2 linked regions of the Homo sapiens genome follow. The protein of the gene in region 1 purifies or fractionates together with the protein of each later gene. This does not show direct contact. Each region holds a gene or a part of one and is shown on either strand. Other genes may lie near its edges.

Region 1 (3,653 bases):
CAGAGTGCCCGGCAAGGCCCAACCAGAGGTGGATACTAAGGCAGAGCCCAGCCACACAGCAGCCCTCACCGCAGTGGCCCTGAAGCCACCTCCCGTGGAGCTGGAAGTCAACCTCCTGACCCCCGGGGCCGTTCCCCCTACAGTGGTCTCCTTTGGAACGGTGACCACCCCAGCTGACCGGCTGGCCTTGATAGGGGGCCTGGAGGGCTTCCTGAGCAAGATGGCAGAGCACAGGCAGCAGCCCGACATCAGGACCCTCACGCTACTGGCCGAGGTGGTGGAGTCCGGGAGTCCTGCAGAGTCCTTGCTGCTGGCCCTCCTGGATGAGCACCAGGTAGAGGCCGACCTGACATTCTTTAACACGCTGGTGAGAAAGAAGAGCAAGCTGGGAGACCTGGAGGGGGCCAAGGCGCTGTTGCCGGTCCTGGCAAAGAGGGGCCTCGTCCCCAACCTGCAGACATTCTGCAACCTGGCCATCGGGTGCCACAGGCCGAAGGACGGTCTACAGCTTCTCACAGACATGAAGGTGAGTGGACTCGGGCCTGGGCAGGACACCCATGGTGCTCAGGAGCACTCTGCAGCTCAGGAGGAAAGTTTGAGGGGTCTGCAGACCCCCCACCTGGAGAGGATGAACTGTGCATGGGGCAAAGAGAGTGGGGTCAATGACCTTCTGGTCTTTGGTCCCATTTTGGGGGAAGCAGACCCCAGTGAGTGCTTCAGGGCTGGGCGTAGAGACACACGGATGTTCCCATCCGGAAGAAGGTGGCCGTGGGTTGACACAGGGCTGGGCACAGGCCTCGGCCCCAACACTCTAGAGGTATGGCAGGGATTCTCAGAATTCCTGAGGGGCCGTGGGCAGTTTTCAAAGCCCCCGAGGTCTGTGCCTCCCACCTAACCCCCATTGGAAGTGCTGCGTGGATTTCATCCGACCACAGCAGAGGCTGCGTCCTGGGTTGTCGGTGTCCCCAGGTCCATCATCCTCTGGCTGTTTTCCTGGACCCTACCGGGCTCACCCAGCCAAGGCTTGCACTTTTCTAGGCCAACCACCACCTGGTGACCGTGCGTCACAGGAAGCCCACCCCAGGGAGCAAGGAGGTGGTGTCTCCCACATCATTTTCTGCCTGAGTCAGTCGGTGTCTGAGAGCAGCACGAGCGTCCTTTTCCGCAGCTTCTTTAGGGCTGAGCAGAGGGGCTGGGCTTGGCTTTCCTGCTGGAGAGGGATATTCAGCACATTGTTGCTGCCAAGTTTGCCTTGCTGGCCCTGGCCGCTGGTCCCGGGAGCCAGCTTGATTGACAGAGGGTGGGAGCTGCTGGGTCCCAATGGCTGCCATCATCTTGATTCTACGATGTCCCTGTGTTCTAGAAGTCCCAGGTGACCCCCAACACTCACATCTACAGTGCCCTCATCAACGCGGCCATCAGGAAGCTGAACTACACCTATCTCATCAGCATCTTGAAGGACATGAAGCAGAACAGGGTCCCGGTGAACGAAGTGGTCATCCGCCAGCTGGAGTTTGCAGCCCAGTACCCTCCCACCTTTGACCGGGTGTGTGCCCCAAGCTCAAAAGCTCATCAGCTCCTTCACCATTGCTACCCCCTCCCCCCACCACCCAACCCCGGTTCTGGCCCTTGGGATTGTGTTGCCATGCTTGAAACTGTCCAGCAGCTTCCCTTAGGAGCAGTACCCAAGTCTGTAGACCACAGCCTGCGAGTCCCTGTCTGCGTGGCTCATCTCATGTCTCAGCCTTGCGTTTGCTTTCTCTGTCTGTCCCAGTGGCCTTCTGTCAGTTCGCAGAGGCCACCAACCTCTTGCCTGCTTCGGGATTGGTGTTCCCGCTGCCTCAGGTGGCACCCACTTTTCCTGGAGGTCTCTGCTTAAGTGGCCCTCAGACATGCCCAGCTGGCTGCCGCTCTGACCTGGGATGAAAGTCTCCCCTCCCCCTTCCCACTCTGTTCCTTTATGCCGTGTCCTACAGTCTTGGATCATGTGCTCATGGGCAGCCCTGGCCTTCCCTGTATCAGGCTTCTGGAGGCAGAGGCTGTCTGCTGTGCTCATCTGGGTCCCCAGCACCTGCACGTTGCTGGGTACTCCAAACAGGTTGTCGCTTGCTCAGGGACTGGGCAGGCAGTGAAGTGGTGTCATTGTCTGGGGTGAATACCTGAGATTTGTTGTGAGCCAAGATCGCGCCACTGCACTCCAGCCTGGGCGATAGATGGAGACTTGGTCTCAAAAAAAAAAAAAAGAGGTTAAGAGCTGAAGTTTAATAGGCGAAAGAAAGAAGAGCTCTCGCCCGGTGTGGTGGTGAAAAAAAAAAAAAGAGAAGAGCTCTCTCCTTGCAGAGAGAGGTGCCAGAGAAGTGGGTTGCCACTTCCATAGTGTAATGCAGAGGTTTTGTAGATGAGCTTGGGGAGGTGGTGTCTGATTTACAGAGGACGCAAAAGATTAGTTGGACCAGGTGTGCCATTTACATAGCATGTATAAAAGCTGGTGCCCCACCCTAACCTTTTATTATGCAGACAGGTGGCCATCGCCATGTTGCCTGGTTCTTTACTGTACACATGGCAACAAAGAAGGGAAGATGGGGCCCCCACGTTGAACATATCTGGCTCCCAGGTAGCCCTTTTCTGTTGGCACAGCCGCCAGCATTTACCCCTGCAAGCTTCCAGTTTGCTTATCTATGTCTGCAGCTCGATTTTTCAGGCTGCTCTTTGTTAGAAAAGAAATTATTTGGGGGCTGCTTTTTATTAAAAGGGAAATTTCGCCAAGGACTCTGTTGCCCTTATTATCTGCCTAAATAATTTCTTTCAACCTCCTGTATCAGCAGGAGCAGGGCAGAGTCATGGAATCTGCTTTGTCACGGCCACAGCCTCTCCCTGCTGTTCTGAGGCTATCAGGCTCTGGGGTTTGGCTTTTGGGTCCATCGAATCACACTCTGTGCTGAGCATCTCCGGAGCATCGAGAGCCACTATGGCTTGAAGCACAGCCCGGATGGGGCGGAAACAAGTAAATGGGCAGGGACACACACAGCTAGAGGGTGCGGGGTCAGGAACGCCGTGCAGGTGTCACGCCTGAATGCCATTTTGAGGGCTTCCTACAAATAGGTGGGACAGCAATGGAAATTGTGTCTGGCTGAAGGCATAGCTGGGCATTTTTGAACTGTGTCTGTGCTTTGAACTGTTGGTTGCAAGCCTTTTCTCATTGATTCCAGGGTTTTTTATATATTCTGGGTACTGGTTTTTTGTTGATCACATGTTGTGCATATCTTCCTAGTGGATTGTCTCTTCCCTCTGGCGTAGGGCTCACTAGGGGTTCAACTCGACAGTCACAAGACTATCATAGACCTAAAGCATATCATATTTAAGTCACAGACAGATGTCCCTGACTTAAAGATGATTCTACACAGGATTTTTCAACTTTGCAATGGTTTTATCAGGATGTAACTCTGTAAGGATCGACTTTGTGCGGGGTTAGTTTCTACTGAATGTATATCACTTTTGCATAATTATAAAGTCAGGACCCTCTGCTGTGTTGCCAGCAATAGATGCATTTTCCTTTTGTTTTTTATGAGATGGAGTCTCACTCTGTCACCCAGGCTGGAGTGCAGTGATGCGATCTGGCCTCACTGCAACCTCTGCCGCCCAGGTTCAAGTGA
Region 2 (3,157 bases), on another chromosome or scaffold:
AAGCTTCATTTTTCGGGTAATATCACCACCATACTGAAAAATATTTTAAAACATTGGAAGTCTAAGTCACTCTAAAGAGAAACAATCATATGATTACAGCGGCATCAGTACAACCTTAACAACCATACCAAATTATTATCCATAAGGCAGACATCTCTCTAATCTTCCTAGCAGATCTAATTTTACTGTCTTCTCAAAGAATGATACAGGATTTAATCTGGATGGAGGTGAAGATTCCCAAGGAAACCTAGTATAATAATATGCATGTCAAGGAAGAATTATCAATCTCCTTACTGATTCTAGGCTTGGAATTTTGACTAGAAAGCCACAGTCTAATATAGGTAACTCTTAATCACATAGGAATAAATGTGCCTTTGGAGAAAGAATTGATCATTCAACTCTCACGATATTTAAGAATAATTTTTCTTTTTTTGAGATAGAGTTTCCCTCTCACCCAGGCTGGAGTACAATGGCAGGATCTCTGCTCACTGTAACCTCCGCCTCCTGAGCTCAAGCAATTCTCATGCTGCACCCTCCCGAGTAACTGAGATCACAGGCATGCACCACCACGCCTGGCTAATTTTTGTATTTTCAGTAAAGCTGCGGTTTCACCATGTTGGCCAGGCTGGTCTCGGAACTCCTAGCCTCAAGTGATCTGCCCATCTTGGCCTCCCAAGGTGCTGGGATTACAGTTGTGAGCCACCGAGCTGGTGCAAGAATAATTTTTTAACAGCTGAATAACAGCAAACTGGCAAAACAATGTCAGGAGAGGTAGACTTCAACTGTAAGATAAAGCCATTGTTTTCAAAATCTTTCATTATATGTTAGATCAAGAAAACATGTTACCCAGATCATAGAAATAACTGTTGTAAAAATCTTCCTTAGTATTACATATAAGAACAATTTTAATAAATATTTTTGTAAATTTTTATAAATAAGATGAAAAAATACTTAAAAGATATGGGCAAAATGAACAGGTTGCCATGGTCAAGCTGAAATTTACCTATTCAAAAAGGGAACTTGGAAACAAAGAATGTATAAAAACCAACAATGGAAATCAATAAGTTTATGCCCCCTTTGATTTAAAGCCCATAAAAGTTATAAAGTAGAATAAATACAACTAGATACATACACATTTTGCCAAAACGTTTTTCCTATAGGCTTTCACACTGTAAAAGAGAAAAATTCGTTTAAGTACATAATTCCATTATACTGTTTAAAAGCACTTCCTTACCAAAAACAATCTCCCCTTTACTAGAAAATTTTAATGATAGTATCATTACCTATGTAAAATTGCCATAAGCATATTAATTAGATACTTCAAATGCTCTTGTATTTATTTTCATGTACTTGGTATAAAAGAACAAATAAATTCAACATGTTTATCAACACACATTAAGAAAAAATGGTCAAGGCTTGTGGTAGGCTTGATTAGGCCAAATTCAAGCATGATGTGACCTTGATTACAAGAAATACATTAGGTTATTTTTTACTCAATCTAAAAATTACCAATCTAAAAATTAACACTACTACTTCAGAAAAACAAAATATGTTTATTATCTTATTACTGCCTCTACTGAATGTGGATGGAGTGGCTAGGAAGCTTGATATATCCACCCCAGCAGTTATAAACTAATCTATTTCTACAATGTTTGAGAAATTTCTAGATCACTCTAATTTTGAAAATAGCTCCATCTTTATGTATTCCTTAAGACAGAAAAACCAATTTTTTAAGGTATTATCTCAACACACTTATTTTAGAATGAGCAATTGCTAACTGTCTTAAATTGCACTTTCCAGGATGTTCCCTAGTTATCATTTCTACTCTGCCTGATCTCAGTATTTACAAAACACAGAATAACTAACCAAAGCAAAACAGTGTTAGGAAATGAAATGTATTTCAAACAGTGGGCCTAAAATTAACCTCAAGTCTATATTAACATGATGGTTGTATTTCCTCATTAGGTTTGGGTTAAGGTCGAATTTAATAGCAATTTCCAGCTTTTCATAACTGAGGAGATACTTCCTATTTCCTAGAAGTCTTAGGATCATTAAGGAAAGGAAATGGGAAGTGCTACAAGACACATCCTGCACCTGCTGTCACAAGCAGAGCAGCTTATTCAGTGTTCTTCATTGTTATTTTTGGGTTTTTGTTAAAAAACTGGGTCTTACTATGTTTCCCAGACTAGTCTCACAGCAATACTCCTGCCCCAGCCTCCCAAGTAGTTGGGATCACAGAATGTGAGCCACCACACCCAGCCAGTGTTCTGATTTATGTATTACATTTCATGAAAGACTAGTGTCCGACACAAATTAGCCTGTCTTCCATATCTACTATAATTCATGTGAGGTCCCTAATCTAGAATGCAAATCCTAACATGGTATTGGCATTCCTTGATTTATAACCTCCCTAGCTCTGCGGAAGTGGGGAAGCAATATTAAATGCTTTGGGTTAAAAAAAAATTGTAATTTTGTCATTTGGAAGACAAAACCTTTTAGTTTCAGTTTCTATTAATCTATAATCTACCTAAAGGGATAAAACCATAAAAGAAATTCCTTACCCAGGAAATTCAGTATAGACATTGATATGAGTGGAAATTAAAACAGTTCCTCAAACTCGTATACGTTATACTAACTGCAGATCACATCACCCAGTGCTGTTATATAAGTAATTCAAAGTAACAGTCATTACTTAAATCAGAAAACTGGAGAGCACCATCATACTGTTTCTACAAGTAAGAAAGCTTAGGCCAATGTTAAATTAAAATGTTCAATATTCTTTCACTTTTTAGGTATATCATTTCTGAAACTGGCTCAAGACCAAAAATGAATTTCAACTCACGTTTCTCTTGCAATGATTTTACTTCCAATAGCAGCTTGAATTGCTATCTCAAACAGTTGCCTAGGAAGAGAATCCTTCAGCCGTTCACATATGGCTTTGCCAATTGAATGAGCTTTGTCTCTGAGACAGAAAAATACAACTGTTTATATATCCTAAATAAGAATATTTCAAGTATTTTTCTAGGCCAGTTGCATAATCAGTGTAAAGGTGATCTCTTAAGGAGGTTCAAATGGAACTTACTTATAAATCTCTCTTACTCTCTGAATCATGAACAACTTCTCTGATTTAAAAAAGTAATGTATGATTACAGAATAT

Evidence for each region. Proteins that work in one complex are often made in the same cells at the same time.
Region 2: the proteins of PTCD1 (region 1) and GUF1 purify together in Homo sapiens (affinity purification with mass spectrometry; one large-scale study listed by BioGRID and IntAct). This does not show direct contact.

Annotation. Positions count from the first base shown.
Region 1 is NC_000007.14:99,421,668-99,425,320, reverse strand, and holds part of PTCD1 (pentatricopeptide repeat-containing protein 1, mitochondrial), read left to right. Parts: coding exon 1-526; intron 527-1,363; coding exon 1,364-1,546; intron 1,547-3,653. Other genes in the region: ATP5MF-PTCD1 (ATP5J2-PTCD1 fusion protein), read left to right, coding at 1-526, 1,364-1,546. UniProt on the Homo sapiens protein: Mitochondrial protein implicated in negative regulation of leucine tRNA levels, as well as negative regulation of mitochondria-encoded proteins and COX activity. Also affects the 3'-processing of mitochondrial tRNAs.
Region 2 is NC_000004.12:44,695,420-44,698,576, reverse strand, and holds part of GUF1 (translation factor GUF1, mitochondrial), read right to left. Parts: intron 2,963-3,157; coding exon 2,843-2,962; intron 1,170-2,842; coding exon 1,133-1,169; intron 34-1,132; coding exon 1-33. UniProt on the Homo sapiens protein: Promotes mitochondrial protein synthesis. May act as a fidelity factor of the translation reaction, by catalyzing a one-codon backward translocation of tRNAs on improperly translocated ribosomes. Binds to mitochondrial ribosomes in a GTP-dependent manner.